3 separate regions of the Homo sapiens genome follow, and all the other regions are linked to region 2. The links come from fine-mapping of genetic effects on gene expression. A gene starts in region 2. Each other region holds a variant in brackets. All regions are shown on one strand. Distances are from middle to middle. Region 1 overlaps SFI1 (SFI1 centrin binding protein). Region 2 holds the start of PIK3IP1 (phosphoinositide-3-kinase interacting protein 1). Region 3 overlaps EIF4ENIF1 (eukaryotic translation initiation factor 4E nuclear import factor 1).

Region 1 (8,181 bases), 280 kb before region 2:
GAGGCAGGAGAATGGCGTGAACCCCGGAGGCAGAGCTTGCAGTGAGCCAAGATAGCACCACTGCACTCCAGGCTGGGTGACAGAGCGAGACTCTGTCTCAAAAAAAAAAAAAATCTAAAAAATTAGTTGGGCATGGTGGCATGTGCCTGTGGTCCCAGCTGCTTGGGAGGCTGAAGTGGAAGGATCACTTGAGTCCAGGAGTTCAAGGCTGCAGCAAGCTATGATTTTAACACTGCACTCCAGCCTGGGTGACAGAGGAGACCCTATCTCTAATAATAATAGTAATGATAATAATACTAATGCCTCAACACTGGGCCTGGTGGCACATGCCTATAGTCCCAGCTACTCAGGAGGCTGAGGTGGGAGGATTGCTTGAGCCCAGAAGTTTGAATCTAGCCTGGACAACATAGTGAGACCGCATCTCTAAAAAATAATAATAATGCCTCACAAATTGGCTAAGCAAAGCTGATTTGCCCATACTTCCCCATGCCTTAGGCTTCAATTTTCTGAGACAGAAGTGAAGATATCAGACTGGATTAGGGGTTTTCGTACTGTGCTTTGTGGAGCCCCAGAGGCTCCTGAAAACATATGAAGACCACCTCGTGTAGCAAGGGAAGGGAAGAGTAGCAGGTAGAACAGGGACGGACTCCCTGACGTGCTTCAACCACAGCATGGCTACTTTGACCTATTTTATAGGTGAGGCTTCCGCCACTCAAAAGGGGTTTTACCATGTAAAAAAAGCTCAGGACTAAATAATCTCTGAGGTTCCTTTACAGCTCCATACCCCTCTGACCCTACAACATTAGCACCTGTAATCCAAAATGAAAAGAAGGACACCCACAATGAAAGGAGGGCTTCATGACCAAAACTCACCCATAGCTGACTGCATTTAATGAAGGTGATAGGGGTCAGGGTCCCCCAAGAGTGGATACCCAAGCAAGGCTGCCAAGCGGACCCGTGCCAGGATGCAGGGCTCTTACCAGCTGGCTGTGCCTGTGGTGCTCTTCTGCCATCTCAAACTGGGCAGCTTCTTCTGCACACAGCAGCATGTCTGCCAGGAAGTGAAGGCCTCCAGTCCCAACAAGGTTCTGACCCCTACACAGTGCATTCTCAGCAAGCCACCTTGAAGGGCCGTGGCTATCGGGGATAACACACGTGCCAGGTGGGCTGAGGTCCACCTCTGTCTACTCCTGATGACCCAGGGAAGCAGTGGGCAAAGGGAAACCCTGTCAGTTACTGATCAAACATCTGGTCTTGCATTCCTCCCCTTGAATGCCCATGAGATGAGACGCAAAAAATACCTGAGATAAACTGCTATCAATTTCAGTAAACATTTAGAAATCACCATATCTAAAGCAGAATCTGCTCCTTTTTCTATAGTCTCTGTTTTGGCATCACAATCCAGTTAGATATTTGAGCTAAAAACCTTGGAGTTATTTTCAAACCTTTTCTCCTCCCACTCTCATCTAATCGGTCGCCAAGTCCATCTGTTCCCTTCCTAAATCTCTTGGCTCTCTCCATCCCCTTCTGCTCTTCTGTCCCCACCCCCAACACCCTGCAGTTCATCCAACTCGTCCCTTACGTAGACTGGTAAGTGAGCCTCCTCCCATAACTGGTCTCCCACCAGTGCTAGCCTCTCTCCGCTAATCCAGAATTATCCTTTCCAAAGCACAAATCTGACTGCACTTCTTTTCTTTTTTAAGAGACTGGGTCTCACTCTGTCACCCAGGCTGTAGGGCAAGGGTGCCATCATAGTTCACTGTAGCCTCAAACTCCTGAGTTCAAGCGATCCTCCCAAAGCACTTGGATTACAGGTGTGAGCCACTGCCCCCAGCCTCTTCTCTTCTTAAAAACCCCTGAAGCCGGGTGTGATGGTGTGTGCCTGTAGTTTCACCTACTTCGTAGGCTGAGGGGGGAGGATTGCTTAAGCCCAGGAGTTCAAGACTGTAGTGAGCTACCATTGCGCCTGTGAAAGCCACTGCACTCCAGCCTGGGCAACATGTGACCCTGTCTCTAAATTTTTAAAAGTTAAAAAACCTCCAGAGGTTCCTGCATCTACCTTCCCACCATCCCTACCTCCACAGCCCACTGGATTCTTGAATGCTTTTCCTCACTGAAATGCCTTTTCCAACCTTCTGCAGTCTTCCCCTAAGACATCAACCTTCCCAACTTCTCATCTCCTATGACTTAGACTCTGCACAAACATTACCTCCTTGGCTGAATCTCCACAGTCGCTCTCACAGGACTTCATACAAATCTTTATGATAGGAATTATCATGCCATATTTAAAGACATATTTTCATGTCTATTTCCCCCACTAGACAATGAACTATCATTAGTCTGAGCTTCCTCATATCCCAGAATTTAAGCAGGAGTTTATACAAAGCAAGACTTTGATGAACAAATAAAATGTGTGGATGAACATCCTAGGCAGTCCAAATTCTCACACTTGGGCACACAGTATGGTAGGGGTAGTGATTAAGAATATGGCTGGGTGCGGTGGCTCAGGCCTGTAATCACAGCACTTTGGAAGGCCGAGGCGGGCAGATCACCTGAGGTCGTCAGGAGTTTGAGACCAGCCTGACTAACATGGAGAAACCCTGTCTCTACTAAAAATACAAAAAAATTAGCCGGACATGGTGGTGCATGCCTGTAATCCCAGCTACTCGTGGGGCTGAGGCCGGAGAATCGCTTGAACCCGGAAGGCAGAGGTTGTGGTGAGCCAAGATTGGGCCATTGCACTCCAGCTTGGGCTACAAGAGCGAAACTCCATCTCAAAAAAAAAAAGGGAAAAAAAAGAGTTTATACATAGAGCTGGACGCGGTGGCTCACGCCGGTAATCCCAGTACTTTAAGAGGCCGAGGCAAGTGGATCACTTTGGGTCAGGAGTTCGAGACCAGCCTGGCCAACATGGAGAAACCCCATGTCTACTAAAAGCACAAAAATTAGCTGGGCATGGTGGTGGCCGCCTGTAATCCCAGCTACTCAGGAGGCTGAGACAGGACAATCACTTGAACCCGGGAGGCAGAGGTTGCGGTAAGCTGAGATGGCACCACTGCAATCCAGCCTGGGTGACAGAGCGAGACTCTGTCTCAAAAAAAAAAAAGAGGCTGGGTACGCTGGCTCATGCCTGTAATCCCAGCACTTCGGGAGGCTGAGGTGGGTGGATCACCTGAAGTCAAGAGTTCGAGACCAGCCTGGCCAACATGGCGAAACCCCGTCTCTACTAAAAATACAAAAATTAGCCAGGCGTGGTGGCACATGCCTGTAATCCCAGCTACTCGTGAGGCTAAGGCAGGAGAATCGCTTGAACCTGGGAGGCGGAGATTGCAGTGAGCCGAGATTGTACCACTGCACTCCAGCCTGGGTGACAGAGCAAGAGTCCATCTCAAAAAAAAAAAAAAAGAATATGTACACAGGAGTTAAAGGCCTAGGTTTTGAAAATCTTGACTCTGCCAATGACCTGTGACTTTAGAATACACTCAGCTCCTCTGAATCTCTTTCCTCGTCTGTAAAATGGTAATAGTGGCACCTACTCCACAGCGTTGCTATGAGGATGAAGAGGATGATGCATAATGTCTGCTACGTAGTAAAAGCGCAATAAATGGAAACTATGATCACGGTGATGGTATCACCAAGAAAAAGATAGTGGTGGCTATTTCCACCACCTAGTGGGTAGAGAAAAGCACTTAAATTGTAACACCAAAAAATGTGAATCAGGAAAGTGGGATTACCTCTGAGGGAAAAGAAAAAGAACGCAGTCAGGGAGGAGCAAATAGG[T/C]GTGCTAGGAAGGTTCTATTTTGAAAGTTGGGTGATAAGATATATAGTTGTTCATTTTATTATTTTTAAACTATATATAAGCACTCTTTTTATACACAATCCCAATTAAACAAAAATTTTAAGACTGTCAACAGAGATAAGGCTGTTTTGAATCGTTTGGCAATTGTTTCCCATGTATCTCATGACTTTCGTTTCACATGCTGCTGAGCTCATGCTGTCCTGGCTGAGGCAATGGACAGCCTGAGTATCTGAAAGGATACAGTGTTTCCAGTGAGTAAAGGCGCGCCGCAGGGCCATCTTCCTGGCCAGTTTCTCCACCTGGGCATGGTGAGCGTACAAGCTCTCCCTCCGCTCCCAGGCCTGCTGCCAGTCACAGAAGTATATCTGGAGCACAGTGACATGATGGAATCGCTCAGCCATCTCTGCAACAGAGAAATAACTTAAGTGCTACTCCCCTAAGGTTAGATGAGCTGGAAACATCTTTAAGACAAGCTGAACCCCACTACTGGCAGAGAGCAGGGGTTCAAGGCCACACACACACACACACACACACACACACACACACACGCACTAAGTTTTTTTTTTTTTTTCTTTGAGTTGGAGTCTCGCTCTGTTGCCCAGGCTGGAGTGCAGTGGCGGGATCTCGGCTCACTGCAACCTATGCCTCCCAGGTTCCAGCGATTCTCCTGCCTCAGCCTCCCAAGTTGCTAGAATTACAGGCATGTGCCACCACCCCTGGCTGATTTTTCTGCATTTTTAATAGAGATGGGGTTTCACCATGTTAGCCAAGCTGGTCTCGAACTCCTGACCTCAAGTGATCCGCCCGCCTCAGCCTCTCACAGTGCTGGGATTACAGACGTGAGCCACCGCGCCCGGCCAAAATACAAGTTTTTTAAACCTTGAAAGGTCATTAGGAATCCCTGAGCTACATCTCCTCTCTCCAAGGAAAGAGAAAAGGTCTGTGATTTTAGGGAGGAGGATGCTATAAAATCAGTTACATCAAAGGGCTGAGGCTTCTAGTTAGATACTGATGAACAGAAATGAAAACTGTTACTTTCAAAAAGGACTGTTTTACTTTTGCTTCTAAACAAATGTCTCCTGGATAGGACTTAGAGATTGAGTCAATGACATAAAATTCAGTTGCCACGCTGGCATAGGCTTTTTTGAGCTTTCAGCCAACCTGATCCTGGCTGCCAGCTTCATCTCCTTTTAATGCTAGTCAGATAATGGTCTGATGAGCTAGGGCCTGGGAAGGGGATGGGAATCAGACCTGGAATTTGAATGCTGTAATTGGAGGCAGGCATTAGTCTATAGCTTATCATACTAAACAGCTTAATGCCTTCACATTCCAGGACTGGGCAACTGGACTGTTGGTCTGGGGTCACTATCCTCCAATGAACATATTCAAACTCTCCCAAGAGACAGTGTTGGCAGCGTAAGAGATTTCTGCAGGGAGGTTTGGGTGAACGCCAGAGACCCTTAACCCAGTGTCTAGCACAGTGCTTGACTTACTTTGGTATAAACTCAATAAACTTAAGTTAAAAAGTGTACTAATGTTCACATTTCTATGTATTATTACTTCTGAATCTAATTGGGAAACAAAACCATATAAACAGTATCCAAAAAACTCAACATCAAAATCACATGCATTTGCATAACTGGAGACAAACAGAAACTATCCAAATATCTATTAATAGGAGAATGGCTAAGTATATTAAGGTAAGCCATCCTATAAAATATGAATAGTTGTTAAAAAATAACATTTACGACAAATACTTAAGATGTAGGGAAGTGTTGATTAACTGTGTGGAAAAAAGGAAGATACAAAACCATAGGTTATCAACATATTAATCAAAATAATTACAATACTTATAGCAAAATGAAAACCCTATTTAGATAAAAAATATACAGAAGAGGCCGGAAACAGTGGCTCACGCCTGCAATCCCAGCACTTTGGGAGGCTGAGGCAGGCGGATCACCTGAGGTCAGGAGTTTGAGACTAGCCTGGCCAAAGTTATGAAACCCCATCTTTACTAAAAATACAAAAATTAGCCGGGCGAGGTGGTGGGCACCTGTGATCCCAACTACTAGGGAGGCTGAGGCAGAAGAATCACCTGAACCCAGGAGACGGAGGTTGCAGTGAGCCGAGATTGCGCCACTGCACTCCAGCCTGGGTGACAAGAGCGAAACTCCATCTCAAAAAAAAAAAAAAAATCTATCTACAGATAGCTAGATAGATATAGATACAGATATATAAATAAAAGCCCAAAGAGAAATAAATGTGACTCAAGGATGATGTATTTTCCTCCTTAATCTCCTTTTACCAAAATTTCTGGAGTAGCACCATTATATTACTTCTTAGTACAGTACCACTGGCAGCAGGAGAGTGAAACTGTGACCAGATCCTCTATCTCGAGAGCCTGGAGCTTCCTACTCACCATTCTGCTGTCTCTTCACTCTGCGGACTTGCAGGTATTCAAGCCAGGCCTTTAGAAATCTCCGTTTTTGCCAGTGCTGATGATGTTTCACTGCAGAGACAACCTTTTGTTTCTCCTTCTGGACATACAGGAGCTGTTCCCGCCACTGTGACCAAGCCTGAAAACCAGAGAAGAGGCAACAGTCAAAGGAGAGGCAGGAAAACAGGGTGAAGTACAGGTGGAGAGGGAAAAGAGAAAGGCACACACGCTGGAAAGGCTGAAATTAGAAACAAGGAAGTGGCAATCCCCTAGCAGGATGATAAGCTATGGGACCGTGGGGTAAAAGGGTCTTTAAGAGGGACATTCTGCTTTCAAAAGTAATTTTTTCCTGGATTAAAAAAAAGAAGAATAAAATCAACAAGCAGAAAGCAGATGGCTGGTGCAGTGGCTCTCGCCTGTAATCCCAGCACTTTGGGAGGCCGAGGAGGGCAGATCACCTGAGGTTAGGAGTTTGAGACCAGCCTGCCCAACATGGCAAAACCCCGTCTCTACTAAAAATACAAAAAATTAGCTGGGCGTGATGGTGGGTGCCTATAATCCCAGCTACTCAGGAGGCTGAGGCAGGAGAATCACTTGAACCCAGGACGTGGAGGTTGCAGTGAGCTGAGATCACACCACTGCACTCCAGCCTGGGCGACAAGAGCGACCAACTCAAAACAAAAACAAAAACAAGCAGACAAGGAGCAGAAACAATCCGAGGGGTGATATAATTAATTCAGATTTGGGATAAGTGAGGGTCTGCCTTTTCTTCCAAAGTCAGAGGAAGCCTACTGTAAAGTAGTCCTTTTTCAGGCAGATTAGTTCCAGGGATGCCTATATATAGAAGCTAAGGGTCTACAAGGGTCTATAAATGCACACCCTTAGATCAGTGATAATGCATGTCCTAATCTGAAGACGACTTAGACAAAGACTTCATATCTTTTCTTCAGCCTGTCGCACCTCTCCTTTCCCTCCTCTCAACTGAATACCATCGTTCCCATTTCACTAAGAAAATAAAAGCAATCAAAAGGAAATTTCCTTAAGGTCCACCATGTTTAACTACCCACCTGCCCACGGGCTCTGTCTTCTCTCTTTCCTGCTACTCTGGATGAACCGCCCATGCTCCCACCAACGTCAGTCCCCTCCCAACCCTGTCCAGCTCTGGCTATCTCTCACCTTCCCGAGTTTACTGCCTTGGCAGTTCCCCTCTTACGAATCATCAGTTTTCACTCTCTATAGATTTTTGAAATCAGCATATCAATGTGCTATTATTTTTCCTATCCTAAAAAAAAAAATCTTCAAGATGTAACAACTAAAAGCAATGGGTGACCTTTAATTAGACTATGGAAATGAAAATAGCAACAATATACAGTTTTAATATGAACTGCATGTTATATATTATATCAATATTAAATTTCTTGGAATATAATAATGATATTATGGTTATGTGGGAGACCATCCTTTTTAGGAGATATACACTTTAAGATAAACTTTGTGTCTACAATTTTAGAGCAGCTCAGACAAAATAAATGTATTTATATACTTAAAGAAAGCAAATGTGGCAAGATGTTAACAATGGGTTGGTGGGGCGGGGTGGCTCACACCTGTAATCTCAGCACTTTGGGAGCCCAAGGCAGGAGGATTGCTTGACCTCAGGAGTTTGAGCCCAGCCTGGGAAACATGGCGAAACTCTGTCTCTACCAAAAAAAAAAAAAAATTAGCCAGGCATGGTGGTGTGTACCTGTAGTCCCAGCTACTTGGGAGGCTGAGGTGGGAGGATCGCTTGAGCCTGGTAGGTTGAGGCTGCAGTGAGCAGTGATCATACCACTGCACTCTAGTCTGGGCAACAGAGTGAGACCCTGTCTCAAAAAAACCAAACCAAACCAAACCAAAAAACCACAATCGGTTAAACTAGGTGAAACACAGACAGTATCCACCTTTTCTA
Region 2 (8,181 bases):
ACTAGAATATTATTTCCCTAACAAGCTGCATAAAACCATTCCTGCTCAGTTTGTAATTATACACCAAAATATTGAGCACAATTTCAGTAGCTACTTCTACAGCACATCATATAAAGTGAATTGCTGGAGCCAACTCATTAGGTCTTATTCCAAAGATTTTTACCAACACTTTGGCCCTCTTTTGCTGACAAAAAAGGATTCTTAAGCCTTTTAACAGCTTTATAACTTCCTTATTAGAGTTCACTCACTAACATATCCTGTTAACAAAATGAAGTGCCCATCCTTCTTGGGAAACACTCTGGAGAATATTTCCTGATTTCATCGCACAGCTTTGTCTCTGGATTAGTAATCATCTAATACGAAACTGAGGATATGAGTATTATGTTTCACAATGTTGTCTTCAAGGATATAAACAACTCAAAATTTAAGTATTTGAGTAGCACTGTATCACATTATTATTGCCGTGATATTTTCAGAAGAAATCTGAAGTCTGCGCTAACTACAGGCCATAAAATATGGCCATCTTGCCCCAATAAATGGAGCAAAGTTCAAATCTGGATCATCAGAAAAAGACAAGAGGCACATTTCTAAACCAAATCTGATTGCCTTGAGGAAGGAAGGTACTGAACCTGTTAGAGTACATCTCTGAAGGACTGAGAATCAAGTCCTTCATTCCCTCGCCCCCTAAAAAAATCCAATCAATCATGCTGATAAATGTCTTAGTTACAGGGGAGAAAAAATAGACATGACTAAGCTGAAAAAAATCTTCTGGCTTTGTATCTTTTCTAGGCAGTGCTGTTCCTGATAAGACACATGACACAAAATATGGTTTTGCTGAGTATCAAGGTAAGTTAGGGAAAATAGTATTTTTTAAATAGGAAAATTAGATGACAACAGCAACAGGTAAAGAAGCCTTGGGCTTCTGAGGTAGAAATACTAGCATCCCTACATAGGCATGGTAGATAATCTGAAACTAGTACAAGTGCTGGCCTGTTATAGCCTGTCTCTACCGTAATCAGAGGGAAAAGTATTACAATCCAGCAAAAGTAGCCCTTCAAAATCTAAGGAGGAGCATTTCATCAGATATCAATAAATGAACCCTCGCTGCATACAAAGGCAATACATTACGTGCTGAGTGACCAACTTCAAAGAACCTTCTGCTGTTCTGAAATTTAAAACTACTCTCATTTCCTCAAGCCTGTATTTTATGTAATGAAACAAAATGCACATCATATGTCTCCTGCTGCACTGTAAGAGTAAACATAGGACCCCTCCCACCAAAAATTGTGCAAAGAGCCCTTCCCCTTCAGCTTTTTGCTATAGAAATATCCTACTACTTCCCTGAAAATAGTATATGCTTTCTTTGGCAAGTGGAATATCACCCTGTTACTCTCTCCCTTACTCTGCTTCACTTTTTTTCGCATAACGCTTAAGATTACCTAATATTTTACATGTTTATCATGTCTCTCCCAATTAGAATATAAGCTTCATGAGGGCAGAGATTTCAAATATTTTGTTCACAGATGTATTCCCAGTATCTACAACTATATTTAGCATGTAGCAGATTCTCAAAAATATTTGTAAAATTAATAAAATTTAAAAATCCCTATTATATTGGAATTGTTAAATTAAAAAAAAATTTTGGCCAGGCGCAGTGGCTCACACCTATAATCCCAGCACCTTAGGAGGCCAAGACAGGCGGATTACGAGGTCAGGAGATCGAGACCATCCTGGCTAACACAGTGAAACCCCGTCTCTACTAAACAAAATACAAAAAATTAGCCGGGCGTGGTGGCGGGCGCCTGTAGTCCCAGCTACTCGGGAGGCTGAGGCAGAATGGCGTGAACCCAGGAGGCGGAGCTTGCAGCGAGCCGAGATGGCGCCACTGCATTCCAGCCTGGGCAACAGAGCAAGACTCTGTCTCAAAAAAAATAAATTTTTTTTTTAAGACAGGGTCTCTCTTTGTTGCCCAAGCTGGAGTGCAGTGGCATGATCACAGGTCACTGCAGCCTCCAACTCCTGAACTCAAATGATCCTCCCACCTCAGTAGGTGGGACTACAGATGAGTGCCACCACACCTACCTATTTTTTTTTTTTTGTAGAGATGAGGGTCTTATTATGTTGCCCAGGCTGGTCTCAAACTCCTGGGCTCATCCTCCCACCTTGGCCTCCCAAGTGCTGGGATTTACAAGTGTGAGCCACTATACCTGGCCAAATTTTAAAATGCTACCGTATCTGTGTATGAATATGTGTGAATAAATTTACAGACTCTAGGGTGTAATTCACAGGGTAGACCAAGTCAAGAGTCAGAGGATCAGAAGCTTGGGTGGGGAGATAGGAGAGTGATTGCAAAAACAAAGCAATCTATCTTATTAAATGGACGAAAGGGATCAAACATTATCAGTAAACTATTTTAAAGAGTGAATTAAATGTATCTCTCTATCCTTTCTATGAGTGTAGTGAATTCAGATTCACCTCAGATTAGTTGAATTGACACTAGTTTTCTTCCCTGATAAAGCTTTTAAAATTTATTTAGTAAAGTGGCCAGGCATGGTGGCTCACACCTGTAATCCCAGAACTTTGGGAGGCCAAGGTGGGTGGATCACCTGAGGTCAGGAGTTTGAGACCAGCCTGGCCAACATGGTGAAACCCCATCTCTACTAAAAAAATACAAAAAAAAATTTAGCCAGGCGTGGTGGCGCACACCTTTAATCCCAGCTACTTGGGAGGCTGAGGCAGGAGAATTGCTTGAACCTGGGAGGTGGAGGTTGCAGTAAGCCGAGATGGTGCCACTGCACTCCAGCCTGGGAGACAGAGACTCTGTCCCCCCCACCCAAAAAAAAATTAGTTGTTTTCCTCCTTAAATTACAGCCTGCAAGATTGAAACAGAGTTTCCCCATTTCTATTTTGGGATCTGACTGAGTCACAAGGTAGTCTTGACGAATCACTCTGCTCTATCTCTCAGTTTACTGAGGCTGCCTGGGAACTTGAGCTGTCAGCCAAACAGGAAGAAGGGCCCTTCTGCCTACTCCAAAAGGCCTCAGTCAAATGGATATGGTGAGATTTAATGATGGATATAAATTACAGCAAATGGATTTCCTATAGGGTGAGGGAAAAAAAAAAAAGCAAACATTTTACTTAAATTCCTCTATACAATTTAGGGCTGGCAGAAAGGGTAGACTATTACAATGTAGCTGAGCAAATTTTTCCATGTTTGCATAACATGTGTTTTCAACTAAAGATACTCCTTCTATAGTCCTACTATATACAACACCCCAAAAAACCTCAAATGTAAGAAAAAGCAATGTGACAGATTTGACCCTGGCCAAGTTACACTGTTTTTTTTTTTTTTTTTTTTTTTTTTTTTTTTTAAGTGTCAGTGTTCATAAAGGCCCTTTTTCTTTTTCAAGGATGGGTATAAAGTGTTACTCGGCCGAACGCGGTGGCTCACACCTGTAATTCCAACACTTTGGGAGGCCGAGGCAGGTGGATTACGAGGTCAGGAGTTCAAGACCAGTCTGGCCAACACAGTGAAACCCCCGTCTCTATTAAAAATACAAAAAATTAGCTGGGTTGTGGTGGTGTGCCCCTGTCACAAGGTAGTCTTGACGAATCACTCTGCTCTCTCTCTCAGTTTACTGAGGCTGCCTGGGAGCTGTCAGCCAAACAGGAAGAAGGGCCCTTCTGCCTAACTCCAAAAGGCCTAAGTCAAATGGATATGGTGAGATTTAATGATGGATATAAATTACAGCAAATGGATTTCCTATAGAGTGAGGGAAAAAAAAAATCCAGCTACTCCGGAGACTGAGGCAGAATTGCGAGAACCCGGCAGGTGGTTGCAGTGAGCCGAGATTGTGCCATTGCACTCCAGCCCGGGCGACAGTGTGAAACTCTGTCTCAAAAAGAAAAGAAAAGAAAAAAAAAAAAACTATTACTCCACTCCCCACCAGAAACTCTTATTTTTTCCCCCCTATGTGGTCATGAATTCCTCCTGGGTGCATAGCTCCCTAAGTTGTTCTGTGTTTTAGTGCTTATAATTTCCCACATCCCATGATGCCCCTTGATAGAATTATTTTTTCTGTACTCACACAAATGGAAACAGAAGAGATGAAAAACCCTGGGGATGCGGCCTCGCAGGTCTCAAACTGATCGGCTGCTAAGCACAACCTGCATATCTCTTGGCTGAGTTCCTTTCTTGGCTCAGTTAGATTTTGCATGACCTAGGAGGCTTAGGACCCAGGGGGCGCCTTTCAGCTGAAAAACAGCTCGCGCTGCAGCAAGCTAGCTGGGAAGCTCCCAGTTCTAAAGAGAGGCTGTTTACCAGAACAGCATAACAAGGGCAGGTCTGACTGCAAGGCTGGGACTGGGAGGCAGAGCCGCCGCCAAGGGGGCCTCGGTTAAACACTGGTCGTTCAATCACCTGCAAGACGAAGGAGGCAAGGATGCTGTTGGCCTGGGTACAAGCATTCCTCGTCAGCAACATGCTCCTAGCAGAAGCCTATGGATCTGGAGGTGAGATTACAATCTTTCCTTTCCGCAGCAACTTCATGAAACAGAAGGGGTAAAGCCCCCTATTTCCCAAACAGGGCCAGGATGACAGGAAACGAAGCGTTTAGCCGGTTTCTGTTGTCCCGTGAAAGCTTTTCCACCCCTCCTTTCCTTGTCAGGGGCTTGCAGCTCCATCTTTGCCATTAAGAACAAAGGCAAGAAGCCACTTTCTCTCTGCCTTTCCTTGCTCATGAGTGGATGGAGCTTGGGGGTTCATCTCCCCTACTCCCCAAGTCCTGTTCTTTCTAAGCCCTTTGCATGGTGTGGTCCTCCTTCCCCAGCCTCCTTCTGTGGTTCTCCTGCAGAGGGGAGTGGGAGCTTGGAGTCTCATCCAGTCAGCGATGAGGCCGGTTTCCTCCGTTTGAGGCTGTCTTGAATCTTTTGCCTGACGGAGTCAAGGCTCCTGGAGAATTCTCCTGGGAGGGAGTATTTGCCTTTTAAACGGGCAGAAGGTGGCCGTATCCGTGAAGGAGGAAACACCGGAGTTTATGTAACGTGGCCATTACAACACAGGGACAAATGTCACGTCTGGGCGCCCCCCGTCCCAAAACTCCCAGCTCCTCAAAGGGACCCTAAGCCAGGCCTCCTCCTCTCCATCTCCTCCTCCAAAGTGGTCACAAGTTCAAGAGTAACAACGCTTTGCACTTCTGCAGCGCTTTCCAGGTTTCAAAAATAAATAAAACCTAACAGTCTCTGAGCGTTGACTGGGGGACAGGCACAGGCTGGGGGCTTCACACCCTGAGGTGTGCGTGGAGTTGGGGGGGGGGGGTGCGTGGGGCGTGGGGGTGTTGCCACGAGAGGAGAGGGAGGCCCAGCAGGGCCCGGGGTCCCCTAACCAGGCTGAGGTTCAGCCCGGGTGGTCCCGGCTCCCCTGTCCGCCACGCTGGGCGTCTTCCGTTCGCTGCCCGCTATTCTGTGTCCGGGGGCTTCTTTTCCTCACAGGCTGTTTCTGGGACAACGGCCACCTGTACCGGGAGGACCAGACCTCCCCCGCGCCGGGCCTCCGCTGCCTCAACTGGCTGGACGCGCAGAGCGGGCTGGCCTCGGCCCCCGTGTCGGGTAAGTGTCCTCCGGGGGACGGCCCCGGGGCTGGCGGGCGGCGGCCGCGTTCCCGGTGCCAGCCCCGGCACACATTTCCTTCTCTCCTCTCTTAGGGGCCGGCAATCACAGTTACTGCCGAAACCCGGACGAGGACCCGCGCGGGCCCTGGTGCTACGTCAGTGGCGAGGCCGGCGTCCCTGAGAAACGGCCTTGCGAGGACCTGCGCTGTCCAGGTACCTGCCCGGGACCCCGGGAATCCCCGCTCCTGGCGCTGACAGGAAGCGGCTGAGACACTCGTGGCGCACGTGCGGCCGCGCGATGCCGGCCGGCCCCGCTCCGCCTCCGCGCCGTCCGATTGGCCAGGGCTGTCTCCAGGCCGCGGGGCTCAAAGCCTATTGGCCGCCGCCGCCACTCGTATGAGCTCATCCGCCGCGAGCGCTTGTAAACAACTGCGCGGGGCGAGGCTGGGGTGAGGCTAGGTCTCTCCGCCGCGCGTCCTGAGGAGTGGCTTTTGGCCCCTCAGCGTTTATTGACCGTTTGCGGAGCGTCTGCAGTGTGCTAGACCCACACTGCTCACAACCCCAGCTCCCCAACCTCCCCTGACACACACCGCGGGAAGAAGTCGTTTGAGGCATCTGAGCTTCAGAGAAGTTAAGCGATTTACCAAAGGCAATGGCAGGGGACAGATTTGAATTCACGTTTCTTAGATTCCAGAGCGCAGGCTTTTTGCTCCCAAAGCAGCAAGAGAGTTTTCTAGGTTTAAATGGGATAATCAAAATAAAGCATTTATTTTTTATTTTTTATTTTTTGAGACGGAGTCTCGTTCTGTCACCCAGGCTGGAGTGCAGTGGCGCAATTTCGGCTCACTGCAACTTCCGCCTTCCGCGTTACAGTGATTCTCCTGCCTCAGCCGCTTGAGTAGCTGGGATAACAGGCGTGCACCACCACGCCCAGCTAATTTTTGTATTTTTAGTAGAGACGGGGTTTCACCATGTTGGCCGGGCTGCTCTCTAACTCCTGACCTCAGGTGATCCGACCGTCTGGCCTCCCAAAGTGCTGGGATTACAGGCGTGAGCCACCGCTCCCGGCACAAAGTAAAACATTTTACCTAAGGACTGGCACAGAGCGTACGCTTAGATGTGAGCTGCTCAAAGGAAGCATGGGTTGTTTCCTGAAGTAGAAGTGGGGGGAATCCCCTGCAGAAGAACGCAACCGAGAGGGGCCTTGGGAAATAGCAAGGATTTGGACAGATAAAGACGTGGGAGGTAGGAGAGAAGCCCTTCCCTACGGCCTTCCTCTCTCATTTGCCTTGTCCCTGAGATGGTTCAGCCCTCTCAGGCCTGATCTTACCTCTGGGGCAGAATTTGACTTTGGGTTGTGTGTGGGGGGAAATTCTTAGGTGACCCACCTTCATCTACCCTAACACTCAGGCCAGGTTCAGCTGTGGAATTCACTCAGGGCAGTCCCTGATGAGAGCTGTTTCCCACCTCATCTCCAGAGACCACCTCCCAGGCCCTGCCAGCCTTCACGACAGAAATCCAGGAAGCGTCTGAAGGGCCAGGTGCAGATGAGGTGCAGGTGTTCGCTCCTGCCAACGCCCTGCCCGCTCGGAGTGAGGCGGCAGCTGTGCAGCCAGTGATTGGGATCAGCCAGCGGGTGCGGATGAACTCCAAGGAGAAAAAGGACCTGGGAACTCTGGGTATGACGGTCCCCCACCCCTGCCCTCGTTGGGATTCATCAAGAGATGTCATTTGCTGATTGTCTAGGGTGTGGCTAATGGGACCTTGTGTCCTATCCTTGGCAGGCTACGTGCTGGGCATTACCATGATGGTGATCATCATTGCCATCGGAGCTGGCATCATCTTGGGCTACTCCTACAAGAGGTCAGTAGCTTCTCTTCTGGGCCCTCTTAGGAGGAGGGGAGGAAGGTACACAAAGTCAAACTTTGTGGCTTTCTTACCCAAAAGGAAGCAAGATGTTGAAAATCAGCTCAAGATGTAGAGACTTGGTCCTAGTCTTTATCTGCTGACCTTGGACAAACCCTTTCCTTTGGTGCCTTTACACCTCACTTAAAAGCCTTGTGAGGGATGTTCTTGTTCCGCATTTTACAAATGAAGAAGCCTCTGTCAGAGACTTGCTCAAAGTCACATAGCCTAGGAGTGGCAGAACCTGGATTCAGACCCAGCTCTTTTGATAGCAAATTCCCTGCTGTCTGATCCCACATGCCTGGCATTGAAGTGAGTGGCACTGCAGAAATCAGGCTTGACACTGATTGCAGGGACCTTAAGACCAAATTCTTTCTGTGAGTTATAAAATTCTGCTACTAGAAAAGGTTTCCAGCCACTGTTGCAGTTGAGGCTTAAATTTCCTGAGCTATAAGCAGTGGGATCTCCTCTGCTAGGGAAGAAAAAAGTGAGTTGGAGAACAGAAAGTCTGTTTGCCACTCTTCACCACGTGTGAGAAAGCCAAAGAGGCTACTTGTGAAACTCAAGGACATGACCTGTGGCTGGGACAGCAGGAGAAGAATGCTTATTTTGAAAGGTCCCACGAGATGTCCGTCAGTGACTGGTGCATGATGGTAAGCCAGACTGG
Region 3 (8,181 bases), 180 kb before region 2:
AAATTAGCTGGATGTGGTGGCATGCACCTGTAGTCTTAGCTGCTTGGGAGGCTGAGGCAAGAAAGATCACTTGAGTCCATGAGTTTTGAGGCTGCAGTGAGCTATGATCATGCCACTGCACTCCAGCCTGAGAGTGAGAACCTGTCTCAAAAAAAAAACTCCAAAAGGATAGATTAAAAAAAAAAAAAAAAAAACACCTTTCCAAAAGGGTAATATCACATCCTTTCTTGAAATACTCATAAGAAGGAAGCACTCCTAGTTAGAGTGGCCACTTCCCAAGTATTCTGTCTTTAGCCATAGTTGAACGTTTTCTTTGAAAATATCCCAAAGGGGTATTTCCACGAATAATGTTAAGGGCTCTTGATGAGATGGCAAGTTTAAGAACTCTTTTCATGCTTGCTTCGGCAGCACATATACTAAAATTGCAACAATACAGAGAAGATTAGCATGGCCCCTGCGCAAGGATGACACGCAAATTCATGAAGTGTTCCATATTTAAAAAAAAAAAAGACTCTTCTCTTGTCCAGGCATGGTGGCTCACACCCGTAATCCTAACACTTTGGGAGGCCGAGGCAAACGGATTACCTGAGCTCAGGCAGCCTGGCCAACATGATGAAACCGCATCTCTACTAAAATACAAGAAAAACATTAGCCGGGCATGGCGGCATGAGCCTGTAATCCCACCTACTCAGGAGGCTGAGGCAGCAGAATTGCTTGAACGCTGGAGGCAGAGGTTGCAGTGAGCTGAGATCGCCTTGGTGACAGAGTGAGATTCCATCTCCAAAAAAAAAAAAAAATTTCTTTCGAGAGACTGGAAGAGCTGTAGGGGTGGGGACAAGAGTCATCTGTCTATGTGTGGCACTAAACTGGGCACACAGGATATATTATGTGGACAGTTGTAAAGAGAGCAAACTTTTTTTTTTTTTTTTTTTGAAACAGTCTCTCTGTGTCACCCAGGCTGGGGTGCAGTGGTGCGATCTCAGCTCACTGCAAGCTCCGCCTCCCGGGTTCACGCTATTCTCCTGCCTCAGCCTCCCGAGTAGCTGGGACTACAGGCACCTGCCACCACGCCCGGCTAATTTTTTTGTATTTTTGATAGAGACGGGGTTTCACCATGTTAGCCAGGATGGTCTCGATCTCCTGACCTCATGATCCGCCCGCCTCAGCCTCCCAAAGTGCTGGGATTACAGGCTTGAGCCACTGTGCCCGGCCATTTTTTTGTATTTTCAGTAGAGACAGGGTTTCACTGTGTTAGCCAGGATGGTCTCGATCTCGTGACCTCGTGATCCGCCCGCCTTGGCCTCCCAAAGTGCTGGGATTACAGGTGTGAGCCACTGCACTCAGCATTTTTTTTTTTTTTTTTTTTGAGACAGAGTCTTGCTCTGTCACCCATGCTGTAGTGCTGTGGCATGATCTCGGCTCACTACAACCTCTGTCTCCTGGGTTCAGGCAGTTCTTGTGCCTCAGCCTCCTGAATAGTACCTGGGATTTCAGGTGTCCACCACCAGGCCCAGCTAGTTTTTTTATTTTTAGTAGAGACGTGGTTTCACCATGTTGGCCAGGCTGCTCATGAACTCCTGACTCAAGTGATAGCTGGTCTCGGCCTCCCAATGTTTTGAGATTACAGGTGTCAGCCAGCATGCCTGGCCCAAACTGTATTGACTTAGCTCATGGTTTCTCTCTTCCCCACTTAAGTAGGGGATCTTCTTGTGCTGGGATACCACCTTAAGCATCTTAGGATCATGCTGGAAGGTAACACATTTAGTGCTGTAAACAGTGAGGAAGTTTTCTCTCATTTTTCCCTAAATGTCCACGTGGACCTTGGGCCATATTTTGAGAAACATGCTCAGTTGGAAGCAATAATTTTTAACCTCTTGGGCATTCATTGGAAATCTTTTGAAGGTGTGAACATTCACTGCAGAAATTGCACAAATGCATCATTTTCCATATGGTTTCAAATGGGAGGTCTTACACTCCTTGACACCATGGAACTGATTTAAGAAGTCTTACTTTTCAAGAACAGTAAATACTGTTTACCTAGATGTTTACAGTGACTCCCTGCCACTTTTACAACCCAAGAGTTGTCTTGTTTCTAAGCCCATTTCTCAGTGAAGAAAATGGCTCTTTATCCTCTATGGACAGGTGAGCTATGTTTTAGCCATTGTATTTGGTCAAAAGTGCGCCCTGGCACAAATAATGTTGCTGGTGTGGTTAATGTCAGTGTGTAACTAGCTTGCTACTCTGCCTTCTGCTCTTACAGGCCTGTGAAGTTTGTACATCTGTTCACTTAAGCATCACACCTATGTATGCTAAGCATGTAAAGTCAACAACGAAAACTGGAATACGGAAGTGAAAATGAGAATTTTGTTAACTCTTCTTAACTGAGAGTAGTTGGTGTTTATCACTCTGTGATTAGAGCAATAACTCTAAGAGGAAAGATTATATTGAACAAAACATTAACTTTGAATAACCTCTCAATTTCAAATTCTCTTTTTTTGTTTTTTTTGTTTTTTTTTTTTTTTTTGGAGACAGAGGTCTTGTTCTGTTGCCGAGGCTGGAGAATCTCAGCTTACTGCAACTTCCACCTCCTGAATTCAACCAATTTCTCCTGCTTCGGCCTCTCAAGTGAGGCTGAGATTACAGGCATGCGCCATCATACCCAGCTAATTTTTTAATTTTTAGTAGAGACAGGGTTTTGCTATGTTGGCCATGCTGGTCTTGAACTCCTGACCTCAAGTAATACGTCCGGCCTCTTTTTTTTTTGAGACAGGTTTTCTGTCACTCGGGCTAGAGCGCGGTGGTACAATTACAGCTCATTGCGGCCTGGATCTCCTGGGCTCAACCAAGTCGCCTGGACAATAGGCATGCCACCATGCCCTGCCTTTTTTTTTTTTTTTTTTTGAGACAGGGTCTCCCTCAAAAAGGGTGCAGTCTTGGCTCACTGCAACCTCTGCCTCCCAGGTTCGCAATTCTCATACCTCAGCCTCCCAAGTAGCTGGGGCTACAGGTGTGCACCCCCACACCTGGCTAATTTTTTTGTTTGTTTGACACAGAATCTTACTCTGTTGTCCAGGCTGGAGTGCAGTGGTGTGATCTTAGCTCACTGCAACCTCTGCCTCCCAGGCTCAGGCAATTCTCCTGCCTGAGTCTCCCAAGTAGCTGGGATTACAGGCGTGCCAGGCTGGTCTTGAACTCCTGATCTTAAGTGATCCACCCGCCTTGGCCTCCCAAAGTGCTGTGATTACATGTGTGAGCCACCGTGCCCAGCCCATATTTTCCTATTTTTAAACTAATATCCTTTTTCTGTTCAAGGATTCTATCCAGGATACCATATTATGTTTAGTTGTCCTCTCTCTTTAGCCTCCTATTTTCCTTTTTTTAAGACTGTTACTTCTGTTAAAGTATTTTTTGATTCCTC[G/C]TCAATAGGACCAAAATTAGGCTTTTCTGGATGTTTTGTGGTTGTGTTAAAGTATTAACCTTTCCCAGGTGACTCCTAAATAAATAGGTAAAATCATTATAGAGTTCAGCAAACAGCTGTAGTGGTAATTGAGAACACCTATTGGGATCCCTGTTACCTTTGGAGTTAAAAGTTTCAAACAAAACACCACTTAGAAACTTCCCTACATTAAGAATTTACACATTTAAGCGTGAAAGATTGTCTTTGATTGAATAGCACATTAGGGTTCTTAGTATCTGCATGGGGTAGTAAGGGGATATGTGATAATCTTTAGTTACTTTTAAGAGTAAAAAATTGCTTTGCAGTGGTTTTTCCTGTAGCATTATGTATAAGTATTTCCTATATTGCAAGGTCCTTCCTGTTTCTACTAGAAAAATTTTAAGCCCTCTTGTCCTTAGGATTTCTGTGTTACAGTAATATCTGATATTTTCATAATTACTATTGCTCCATCCTCCCTGAACCCCTCCCCCCAGCCCCAAAGTTGTGCTAACCCTACAGATCTGACACCATGTTTGCCCTGAAGATTTCTCTGGAGTCTCCCGTGGTGTGTTTTGTTTTTTTCTTTTTTTGAGACAGGGTCTCTGTCACCCAGGATGGAGAGCAGTGGTGCGATCGCTGCAGCCTTGACCTCAAGTGACCCTCCCACCGCAGCCTCCTGAGTAGCGGGGACCACACTTGGTGAATTTTTTTTTTTTTTTTTTTTAAACGGAGTCTCGCTCTGTCACCCAGGCTGGAGTGCAGTGGCGCGAACTCAGATCACTGCAACCTCAGCCTCCCTACAGGTAGCTGGGATTACAGGCGTCCGCTACCACACCTGGCTAAGTTTTATATTTTTAGTAGAGACAGGGTTTCACCATGTTGGCCAGGCTGGTCTCAAACTCCTGGCCTCAAGTGATCTGCCTGCCTCAGCCTCCTATAGTGCTGGGATTACAGGCGTGAGCCACTGTGCCCGGCCCACTCGATGAATTTTAAAATATTTTTTGTAGAGACAGGTGTCTCCTTATATTGCCCAGGCTGATCTTGAACTCCTGGACTCAAGCAGTCTTCCCGCTTCAGCCTCCCAAAGTTCTGGGAGTACAGATGTGAGCCACTGGACCTGGCTGACTCCTATCTTTACTGGTGATTTATAGGTTGTATGTTCTTTGACAGTTTTTTTTCAGAATTTTGAACAGCCTTTAGGTATGTCTTTGTATTTGGAACTGTGTTTATCTCAGTCTTACAAATTTTTATTCGTATTTCTATCCAGTTATAAGACAGGTAATTGATAAATAAATCCTAAATAAATGCAAATGCCTGATTGATATCCTGGTCTTAAAACTGAAGTATCATATAGTCCTAAGGCGGCATCTTGTCCTGAAGAAAACATTTAGATGCTTCAGTTTTCTGTAAACACTAGAGAATTCATGGTATGCTATACCCAGTGATTCTTGTGGGCTGATTGAGCAAATCTGTCCCTCCATCCTCACCCCAAGATGTTGAATCAGTGATCTGAGAAGCAGTGCACATTCTCCTACTACAAGGCCTGGGATGGGAGTGTTGCCAAAGTCATGGCATAGTGGTATGTGCTTTTTTGCAAGGCAGTTGCAGCATTTTACTGGTGCTGAAAGTTTCGGAATTGCTTTTTAACTTTATTATAAAAAATATTTCAAAGTATACCAAAAGGAGGCAGTAGTTTGTTGTATATATGGGTAGATATGTGTGTTAGTGTGCATGTGTGTATATATATGTGTGTATATGTAAGTGTGTATATTTCCTAACTCTACTGAAAGGGCCTTCAAGCAAATGAGGATACCCAGTTCCCAGACCTTGGTGTTTTATGCAATTCCTCACTTAAAGAAACTAGGATTTCTCAGAAATAGCTGATTCCAGGGCTGGGACAGGATGAATACAAAATAAGCTAGAACGTATGACAGTCTTTAGGAAAAAAAAAAAAAAAAGATGGCATGTTGAAAAAGACACATGGGCCAGTTTGAAGAGGCACCCACTGGCAAAATCTGGGACAGTTTGAGCGCCACATAATTGAGGACATTAATGAGTTATAGACCAACAGAAAAACCAGGAGTCAGCCGGGCACGGTGGCTCACGCCTGTAATCCCAGCACTTTGGGAGGCTGAGACAGGCAGATCACTTGAGGTCAGGAGTTGCAGAGCAGTCTGGTCAACGTGGTGAAACTCCGTCTCTACTAAAAATACAAAAAAAATTAGCCAGCCATGGTGGTGCATGCCTGTAGTCCCAGCTATTCGGGAGGCTGAGGTGGAAGAAGTGCTTCAACCCAGAAGGCAGGGGTTGCAGTGAGCCAAGATTGCGCCAGTGCACTCCAGCCTGGGCGATAGAGCAAGACTGTCTCAAAAAAAAAAAAAGAGGAAAAACTAGGAGTCTGTGAGTCCATACCAATAATACATAGGTATATAAACAGGGGAAAGGAGGACTTGCCTTTACAGTATGATGCCAAGTGCTGGCTGGTAAATATGGAGAGTGGAGAGAGGGCTAGAGTGGCAAAATGAAGAGTGGTTTGGTCAAGAATCATTAATGGATGCTAACTTTAGTGGAAAACTGAAGACCAAGATATTTGGGTGATTTTAAAGTGTCTCCCCACAGATTGCATGCTAAATGCAAATGGGAAAGCAGTAACTAAATAGTAGAGAAACTAGAGAATACCTTGACCAAATGATCCAAATTAGCACCATAGATAAAGGACAGATGAACATCATGGCCTCCAGAAGTGACGGTCTGTGAAGGACACAGCACCTCTTCAGTTAGTATTCTGCCCCATGGATATTTAGGCTCAGTCTATCATGAGAAAACATCAGACCAACCCAAAATGAATAATGTTCTTTTACAGAAAGGGACTATATTTTCTAGAAATGTCACTATCATAAGAGACAAAAGTTGTAGAAATGTTCTAGATTAAGGGAGACCAAAGAGATACAACAATCAAATATCTGATTCTAGACTGGATCCTGTTTTGGAGGGGGAAGATCAATATAAAGGACATTACTGGGTCAATTTACAAAACTGGAATTGGGAAGGTAGATTAGAAAAAAGTATTATCAATAGTTGTAGTTATAAAAAAAACTGGCAGTTCTTCTCAACTTGGGTCTGCAGAAGTCTTCATGCCCTGAGGCATCCGTTATATGTGAGGGATTAGCCTCTCTCCTGTGCATACCAGCTAAGTACATCCTTGAGAGAATGGGAAAATAGTTCACTCAGGTCATTTTCTGTAGGGCTAAATTCTCTCATGGAGCTGGATAACAGGCTGTAAAGGAATATCTTCATTCTTAGGAAATAGGCACTGCAGTATTTAGGAGTAAGGCATCATGACTTATGCAATTTACTCTCTAGTCAAAAAAAAAAAAAAAAAGCTCGCTCATATGTGGAAGCCAAAAAAACTTGGCTTCGTGGAGATAGAGAATAGAATGATAGATACCAGAGTCTGGGAAAGGTGTGTGGGTGGGATGGCAGAATACAAAGAGGTTGGTTATATGGATACAAACATGCAGTTGAAGGAGTAAATTCTAATGTTTGATAGCAGAGCAGAGTGGCTGTGGTTAACAAGTGTATTGTATATTTCAAAACAGCTAGAAGGGAGGACTTTAAATGTCTCCAAAACATAGGAAGGATAAATACTTGAGGTAATTGACACCCGAGATATCCTGACTTGATCATTACACAGTTTATACATGTAACAAAATATCACATATACCCCATAAGTGTATACAAATGTCTGTATCAATTTTTTTAAAATTCTGCAAAAAAGTAAATGATAAATAGGGAGAAATGTTAATAGGTACATAGTATATGGATGTTTTTTGTGTTTTTTCAGTCTTGCAACATTACATTTAAAAAAAACTATCGCCCCCCGGCCCGGTTGCTCACACCTGTAATCCCAGCACTTTGGGAGGCCGAGGCGGGCAGATCGCCTGAGGTCAGGGGTTTGAGACCAGCCCGGCCAACATGGCAAAACCCCGTCTCTACTAAAAATACAAAAATTAGCCAGGCATGGTGGCGTGTGCCTGTAATTCCAGCCACTTGGGAGACTGAAGCAAGAGAATTGCTTGAACCCAGGAGGTGGAGGTTGTAGTGGGCCAAGATTGTGCCACTGCACTTCATCCTGGGCTACAGAGTGAGATTCCATGTAAAAAAAAAAAAAAAAATCCCCTTGTAAGTTGTCATCTAATGCATTGAAAATTGGTAAGATTAGGCAGAGGTTTTATCTAACACTAAAGTTTCCTTGCCTTGATGAGCTTTCAGTGTTACGAAATGTTATTCAATAGCAATTATGAGAGATTGTTTTAGCCAGAAACTGATCACTTTTAAGTTACTGGATTATTCTGCTTGAGCTTGTGAGAACCTCAATGTACTCCAGTCCTTTCTGAAATAAGGCAAGATGTAAATAAGAATTGTGTGAAGTGTTTAAGATGGACACTTAGAATTATTCAGAACAGAAGTTTAAAGTGTGTGGCCTAAGAAATGTAATTCAAAATGACTATTTGACTTCTCTTTTTAGGAAGAACTCTTGGATATAAAAGAACTCCCCCATTCCAAACAGAGGCCTTCATGCCTTTCTGAAAAATATGACAGGTATGTGTGTCATTCTAGTCCTTAACTACTTCTAGTCAATAACTTTTTGTTATACCAAACTTGGTAAATTAAGAATTGTATTGTTTTGAAGTTTTCTGGTAGAATTATAAGTGAAAGAGGGATTTCGAGAGGTAATAAGATGG

The links.
Region 1: its variant is fine-mapped to the expression of PIK3IP1 in whole blood (TOPMed, PIP above 0.99).
Region 3: its variant is fine-mapped to the expression of PIK3IP1 in whole blood (TOPMed, PIP above 0.99).

Annotation. Positions count from the first base shown.
Region 1 is chr22:31,571,252-31,579,432 of GRCh38, reverse strand. SFI1 (SFI1 centrin binding protein) reads right to left here. Exons shown (of 33, transcript NM_001007467.3): 9 at 6,219-6,375; 10 at 4,041-4,202; 11 at 981-1,051. Among named protein-coding and RNA genes, the nearest start is that of MIR7109, 46 kb to the left of the region's middle. The variant T/C (reference allele first, on the strand shown) is at 3,781.
Region 2 is chr22:31,288,606-31,296,786 of GRCh38, reverse strand. PIK3IP1 (phosphoinositide-3-kinase interacting protein 1) reads left to right here and starts at 4,299. Exons shown (of 6, transcript NM_052880.5): 1 at 4,299-4,512; 2 at 5,491-5,607; 3 at 5,703-5,822; 4 at 7,088-7,288; 5 at 7,394-7,472. The coding sequence starts at 4,443. LOC105372997 (a long non-coding RNA gene) reads left to right here. Exons shown (of 4, transcript XR_001755493.3): 2 at 790-846; 3 at 2,966-3,057; 4 at 3,635-3,843. RefSeq lists enhancers at 1,247-1,296, 4,917-4,966, 6,107-6,306, 7,454-7,503 and silencers at 5,527-5,646, 5,827-6,056.
Region 3 is chr22:31,471,701-31,479,881 of GRCh38, reverse strand. It overlaps EIF4ENIF1 (eukaryotic translation initiation factor 4E nuclear import factor 1), which reads left to right. Exons shown (of 19, transcript NM_019843.4): 3 at 7,965-8,038. It also overlaps the pseudogene RNU6-28P. Among named protein-coding and RNA genes, the nearest start is that of EIF4ENIF1, 14 kb to the left of the region's middle. The variant G/C (reference allele first, on the strand shown) is at 3,419.